Linked DNA regions of Homo sapiens. The protein of the gene in region 1 interacts with the protein of each later gene in a pairwise test. Each region holds a gene or a part of one and is shown on either strand. Other genes may lie near its edges.

What was found.
Region 2: the proteins of ZNF432 (region 1) and DCDC2 interact in binary tests that used the Homo sapiens proteins (3 or more experiments, as listed by UniProt).

Annotation. Positions count from the first base shown.
Region 1 is NC_000019.10:52,047,093-52,051,009, reverse strand, and holds the start of ZNF432 (zinc finger protein 432), read left to right. Parts: upstream 1-2,171; 5' UTR 2,172-2,315; intron 2,316-2,369; exon of another isoform or gene 2,370-2,401; intron 2,402-2,448; exon of another isoform or gene 2,449-2,469; intron 2,470-3,917. UniProt on the Homo sapiens protein: Homologous recombination repressor that functions as a poly(ADP-ribose) (PAR) reader regulating DNA damage response and PARP inhibition. Once recruited to DNA lesions via DNA-, in a PAR-dependent mechanism, stimulates PARP1 activity.
Region 2 is NC_000006.12:24,302,181-24,306,097, forward strand, and holds part of DCDC2 (doublecortin domain-containing protein 2), read right to left. Parts: intron 1-3,917. UniProt on the Homo sapiens protein: Protein that plays a role in the inhibition of canonical Wnt signaling pathway. May be involved in neuronal migration during development of the cerebral neocortex. Involved in the control of ciliogenesis and ciliary length.

The DNA.
Region 1 (3,917 bases):
ACAAAAAAGAATACATAGTGAAGTAATTTGAAAAGATTAAATGTTAAGACAGGCATGGTGGCTTATGCCTGTAATCCTGGCACTTTGGAAGGTCGAGGTGGGAGGATTGCTTGAGCCCAAAAGTTCAAGACCAGCCTGGGCAACATGATGAAACATCATCTCCACAAAACATACAAATATCAGCTCTGTTATATATGAAATAAACAGAGTTTTCCAAAGATCTTTTATAAGATGGGAGAAAGGAGATGAAATAGAAGAGAGATTGACTTGGTCCTTCAGGATTGGAATCTGATAGATGGGACACTAGAGGAAGTTTAATGTAATCTTTTTGGCTATCTAGATCTAGTTTTTAGGCCCTGGCTAGAAGCCAGTTAGTTCCTCTTCTAGAATGGCCAATTAAGTCTACAATGCCGGCCACAGTGAGCTTGTGGTATTTAGCTTGCCCTAATCCTATCCCCATATCCTCAGCTTCAAGGTAGCCTTGAAAAGCAACCACCTTTTAACAACAGTAACAGTGAATATCTGCACCCTAGCAGAATATCTGCACTTGAGGAGGTAGAAATGGCTCTGAAAATGGCAGAAATGGCTCTGAAACACCCAAAAGCCTCCATCCCCACAGAATGTTCACTACTAAGCCTGCTTTGCAGCCTGCTGAATAGGTCTATTCTCATAGTATTTCTCTATTTGGCTTGACTTTATTTATGTGAACACTCCTACCCATAGGGCACTTGTCAAAAAACAATCAGCAGCAATTGTTTAACACTAGAGTGTTTAGGGGAGTGACAGTGTGTGTCTGCGTGATAGATGGAAGTAATAAGAGGGCACAGGGGAAAGGGGCCATACGCATAAGATGATGGAACAGAGAGCCTGGAGGGTGGGGTATAGAGAGTGTAGGGGAAGGGAGAAGGCAGACAGGTAAAAGGAAAAAGAATGTTAAGTGTTGTTCAGCCTCAAGACTGACATGATGAAAGTACCTTTATTGTGGTTTTTGTAAATTAGAATGCATGCTTTATTATTAAAAAAAACACAATTGAAAATGTTAAGGACCTTTTCCTCCTTGCTTCTTATAAGAAACCATCATAAGACATAACTTGTAATAATTCTGTAGAAATATACATATATAAAGATATATGTATATATATATTTTAAAATAGTATGTTTTTATTGCAAAATATTCATTAGTGTCATCATATCATAGCCAGATCTACAACCCCAGAGTAATTCCCATGGTTATGTTACATGGCAAAAAGGACTCTGCATTGTAATTAAGTTTATTAATCAGCTGACTTTAGCATTGGGAGATTATTCTGGATTGCCCAAGCACTTAAGAATAGGAGAAACCGGAGAGATGCAGCAGCAATAGTCAGTGGTTTCAAATATGAAAGGGATTTCACATACTATTGTTGGCTTTAAAGATAGGAAGTCGTGGGGGCAAGGAAACTCTCTAAAGGAAATTAATCTGGCAACAACCTAAATAATTCTAGAAAAGGATTCTTTTCCAGAGTCAAGAACAGAGCCAGGTGGTTCTTCTCTTCTAAAGACATTTCCATGGGCCAGTTCCACCGCAAGCTTCTCAGAGAGAATATGTTCTGCCGTACGGACACCGAACGTCCCCTAAGATGGCCGCCCCCATGATGCTCTCCCCTAAGGGCTCTGGCTCCGTTACCTGCAACGCACCGCTCGCTTATTTTTTGTTCTAGTCTCTCTTGCTTCAGTTTTTATACGGCTTCTAAAACGCTTCGCATTTACAATAGTGACTGAGGTGCCCAGAGGTGACTTTAATTTTCCATTGAGCTGAGACGTCACAGCCATCATAACCGCTAAGAAGGGATGCCGCGCCTTTGTGGTAATAATGGGTTCTGGCCTTTGAGAAGTTTGCGCCGTTCACTGTCCCCTGCGAGGAGAAGACTAACTTATTTCTGTTCCGTGTCTGTTCAGAGGACTTTACCCCCACGCCGTGTCTGCCTGTGTGAACTCAAGCCTCTGATAAGCTCTCCATTTTCTGCCAGGGCTGAGGTGTCTGGAAATCGGACAGTTTAAGAGGCCTCCGTCCACCGCGTCTCCCGGCCGCTGTGCCTTCTGTACGTCACGTACTCAAAGATGGCCGCCCCCAGAGCGGCGAGGCGACGCCGGCGCGGACGCGTCTCCTCCTGAGGAAAAGCCGGAAGGCCGCATTCCGCTCTCCATGGAAACGCGGCTGACCGTCTCTGGAGGTTTAGAGGGGGAGGGAGTTGGGCGAGGGGCCCAGAAGTGGAAGAAGTTTAGGGAAGTAAGTTCAGCTTTTAAGAGGTCGCGGCGATTCCAAGGAGAGTCAGGTCAGTGTGTGGGTCAGGGCGTGGAAACGTGGTGGGAGGGAGCTTTCTGAGGGCGTCTGCGTTGTTGGTGGCGCTATATGGTGGAGGTAGCGCGGGGGTTGGGGGAGGCGGGGGCGGGTGTTTCCTTTTGGAGGGGAGCTGGTAGGAGTCCCTGGTGGGTGTCTGTGATAGGATATCTTTGGGGTCCCTCATGGAGGCTCTGGTGGTCAGTGATTAAAGGCCTGAATAGATCAACGACCAAGAGTACTGAGGTCAGGGATTGTGGTCCTCGCGGGTCACTCCCCAGTGGGGCTCAGTGATTGAGAATCGATGGGGTGGCTTTTGTCAACGAATGTGACTTCTGTTTCACATTCTGGATTAATCTGAGGCTTAGTGATTGATGAATCATTAAGGGAATCCAGTGTACGTGTGTGTCTATTCCAGGTTTTCCTATTTTATCTGGCGGGGTGGTGGTCTTTTGTCTAGAGACAAGTGAAAGCCGAAGTCTTTTCACAAGAGCCCTGGCTGGTTTTGTGTGTGTGTGTGTGTGTGTGTGTGTGTGTGTGTGTGTGTGTGTGTGTGTGTGTTGAGCTCAAACTTTGGCTGGAACAGACTTGATGAACGTTAACATTTCCTAAAAGTTTCAGGTCCGAGTACCTCCTCCACAATGAGTTTTCTAATCCTCTGGCTTTCCACAACAACCCATGCTCTTGAACCTGCAGAAAATGAAAGTTTTTTGGGGGTGAAGGGGGGCGGATGAATAGGCTTTCTATTTAACATTATGTTTTTAAATTACTGCGCACAAATTAACAAGAGCCTATTTTTATCCTTCCTCTTGCAAATGTACTGCATATTTTTATGGGTGTTTCAGGTTTTGTATGTTAGTATATAAAGGCGGCTATTTTCCCAGTATTTATATTTTTGAATTGTTTTCTAAATTTGTATTTATAACTCGTATTCCTTTTCTCTGTCTCCCTCTTTTTTTCTATGTGTTTCTTGTTCTTCATATTGAAGTGTGTATATAAACATTTTTTTTTTTTTTTTGAGATGGAGTCTTGCTTTTGTCGCCCAGGCTTGAGTGCAATGGCTGGGCTCACTGCAAACTTCGCCTCCTGCGTTCAAGCCATTCTCCTGCCTCAGTCTCCGAGTAGCTGGGATTACAGGTGCCTGCCACCATGCCTGGCTAATTTTTTCTATTTTTAGTAGAGACAGTGTTTCACCATGTTGACAAGGCTGGTCTCGAACTCCTGACCTCAGGTGATCTGCCCATCTCGGCCTCCCAAAGTGCTGGGATTACAGGTGTAAGCCATCATGCCTGGCCGTATATAAACACTTTTAAATATATATAAAGACTTTTAAAGAGGTGTGAGAGTAACATTGTATAAAGGAAAAAATGTAGTTTCTCACCATCCATATGGCCTGATTTAAAAAACTGATATGAGAATTACCTACTGCTTAGGCATGATGCTATGTGGATTCTCCTTTGTGACCTCCCCTTTCATCTTCATGTTACTTCCACACTTCACCGAAGAAAGGCATTTGGCCTACATTGAGGGTCTTGTGTTTCCTTGGTTTGAGAGAACCAAATAAAGAGACAAATATTCAGGGCCACGTGTTAAGGTG
Region 2 (3,917 bases), on another chromosome or scaffold:
TTTCTGTAAACTCTGAGCTCACCCTTTAGCAATATTATAAGCCCTTAACAAAGCTCTCAAGAAAAGAAAGGAAAATTTCCCTTAAGCCCTAGGCACACTGCTCATGATCTGTGGAAAAAAAAAAAAAACAGAAATCATTTTCTGTTACGAAAATATTAAGATAATTTTTAAACAATGCATTCTGAAAAACAACAAAATAATCCTATAAAATCTTGAGCTCTGAAGTGCTGTGCCTGCAGCCCAACATACTGTGTTCCATCATCTTTCCTTTCCCATTCCCATGCACCTGCTTTCTGATCCTTGGCCCCCACCAAGTGCCTGACCCCACCCTTTTCTCTTAAGACTGACACAAGCAATTTTTCCCAGGTTTCACTTTCTCCCCTATCCCCCATTGAATCAGGTACACTCACGCCAGCACCCTCAATTCCCGCAGCCCTTGCCACTGGGTAGATGTGATCACCTTTGCCTCTCTTTTTGCTTCCAGGGTCCCAGCTGCTATTAGAGAGAACCACGGGGCCCCATGAGCAGCCCTCACCTGAGACCAGCTTTCAGCATCAAGCCATCACCTGGACCTCAGTATAGCTTGCTCAGCCAGCCCTCCACTCCTCCCACAGTTCTTTTTTCCATTTCCCACAGTGGATAGTCCAAATCCTCACCTCTCATCTCACCTCACCCCTCACCTAACCCTTAAAATCCCACTCCAGGCACACACACTCTCAGCAGGTCATTTCATTCCAAATGTCAAGAAATAGAAGCCAGTAGACACGAAGCCCCTCAACTTTCCTTCCCTCCACAACTCACCTCATCTAGATCCTCACCATTTTTCTCCTTTTCTGCCTGTCTCAGAAGGAACTATATGCCTTTAGGAAGCTAACCCCACATCTTGATTTTGTCCCCGGCTGTCTCTGCTTGTTCATTCATTTAAGACCTCCATCTCTACCTGGTGCCTTTAATTTTCCCCTTGACCTTATGGCCGCTCTCAAGTACAGCTGCCATCTCTCTCTTCATTATTCCTATTCCGACTTCCTCCCTATCCTCTCTTCAGGCTTCTGCCGTCTGGTGTCCACCTTTAATACTGGAAGATAAATCCCGACTTTCAAGCATGGCCTGCAAGAACTCCCAGGGCCAAGTGCCGCTTACTTGGTGCCCTCATCTCCTACCAACACTCCTTCCACACAGACTCCTCGTCACGCACTGTAGTTGAACCAGCCTGCTCCCCTCCATTCCCAAAACATCCCCTGCATCCACACCTTGCCTTTGCCCCTCTGGCTAAAACGCCCTCCTCATTTCTCCACCTACTGGAATTCCATCTGCTCTTCAAGGCCCAGCTCAGTTATCACCAATCATTCCCTGCTCATTCTTCTTGCGCTTTCTGTCTCAAACTGCTACAGCTACTATAGTATTGATTCTTGCACTTTGAGTTTTAGGTGATTTTACCCCATGATTTGAAAGGAAAACTTACAAACAACACTAATTTATAAAAATAGGTAACAGTTGTGCTATATTTCATGGCAAGCACCGTACTAAGTAATTTATATGCATTATATATTTTCTAATCATCAAAACAGTGTCCTGAAGTGGCATTACTATAGTCCCAATTTACTAAAGAAACTGGAGCTTGATTAATTAATTGGCCTAAAATCACACATAATAAGTGGTAGAGTTTTAGTGAACCTATGTCTATGAGCCCCTACTATTTGCTACGCACTTTGCTAGTTATCTTAAAAATCAAATAGTAGCCCTAGATCATTTATGGGACTCCATTCTTGGTAGAATTATGCCATCTCTGAGAGAAACAAGAATGAATATTTTTTCTGTGACTCTCAAGTGCCTAAAACAGTGCTTGGCAATGCCTACGAGTTGCACAATAAATGTTTGTTAAAATGTCATACTCTAGAGTACAATTTTTAAAATTTAATCATAGTAACTTTTTTTCATTTTAAGCACACAGGTTCTTAGCCCTACACTAACACCTAGCATCACATTAAGTGACGCTGACTTTTTAAAAAATGTTTAACAGGGCTGGGTGTGTTGGCTCACGCCTGTAATCCCAACACTTTGGGAGGCTGAGGCAGGTGGATCTCCTAAGGTCAGGAGTTGGAGACCAGCCTGGCCAACATGGTGAAACCCTATCTCTACTGAAAATACAAAACTTAGCTGAGTGTGGTGGTGTGCACCTGTAGTTCCAGCTACTCAGGAGGCTGAAGCATGAGAATTGCTTGAAACCGGGAGGCAGAGGTTGCAATGATCTGAGATGGCACCATTGCACTCCAGCCTGGGCAACAAAGCGAGACTCTGTCTCAAAAGAAAAAATAAAATAAAATGTTTAGCAGGTAATGCACGCACCTGAACAAAATTCAAGTGGTTAAAGGGGGTGTACAGTAAAAAAGAAGTGTCCTTCCCACTCCTATGCCCTAATCACCAAGCTGCAACCAGAGTTAGAAATATTCCTTCAAAGATAGTCTGTACATACACATGCATATTATCTTATGTACATAGCACATACATACAATTTTTAAATGCGCTGATGGCCTGCTTTACCAATTCTTCAGCACCTTGCTTTTTTAATTTAATAATTTATCATGGAGATTGTTTCAAATGGGTACTTACAAGTGAGGGTTATATCATTTTTTTTCCCTTTTAGAGACAGGGTGTTGCTCTGTCACCCAGGCTAGAGTACAGTGGTGCGATCACAGCTCACTGTAACCTCAAATTCCTGGGCTTAAGCATTCCTCCTTAGTGCCTTAGCTAGCAATGCACTAAGCACATACAGAGGATGCTCTGCTGTTATCTCTTCAATATGTGACTCTCTAACCATACCCATTCTTGATGGTTTAAAATCTTGTTGGGTTATTGAATTAAAGGCAAAAGTTAATATGTTATATCAATAAGTAACTTTAAAAATCTTGTTGCATTGTCTAAAACATGCTGTTTTGCTTTAGAGCACAGATAGCTATAAACAATATATTGAAATTCATAAAAATACATGATTGTTGAAATAATTATGTAATTTGATTCTGAGTATGTAAATTATTACTTGAATTCAATCAAACCATCTGTTTTAAATAATAATTGTTTTCCTCATTCGGCATGGCAAAAGTGTTCCCCAAATGTTCATGATTAACCAGTTGAATTGAAAACTAATCTTAAAGTTATATTTCCTTGAGTTACATAATTAAAATAACTAAATTACTGTTTTCAGATACACTAAAAATCTGAAAAACTACTCAAAGTAGTATACCTGAATTGTAAAAGAAACAAAAAGATAATTATAAAAAATGATTCATACTTTTTAAAAACAATACCAGTTTTTATATAAAATGCATTTTTAGCAGGCATTTTAAGTAATAAACAACACACAAAAAAATTAAACCAAATCAACTGGGTATAAGAGGAACTTCTCCAGAGCCCTAATCGGGGATAAAGGGTTGGTCAGTTGGTGGTACTCTAGGGACATGATGGCTTTAGATGATGGGGAACATAATGATAAATTAGAATTTTTAAATCAATTTTCTTATTAGCCCATACACTTCCCCTTGCACTGTAAACATAAATGCCACTTCAGGCCAGGTGCAGTGGCTTACACCTATAATCCCAGCACTTTGGGAGGCCAAGGGGGGGTGGATCACCTGAGGTCAGGAGTTCGAGACCAGCCATGGCCAACATGGTGAAACCCCATCTCTACTAAAAATACAAAAATTATCTGGGCGTGGTGGTATGCACCTGTAATTCCAACTACTTGGAAGCTGAGGGATGAGAATCACTTGAACCCAGAAGGCAGTGGTTGCAGTGAGCCAAGATTGCACCACTGCACTTCAGCCTGGGCAACAAGAGCAAAACTCTGTCTCAAAAAAAAAAGAAAGGAAAGAAAAGAAATGCTACTTGAAATATGAGGGTAATATTAAGTATCAACACTC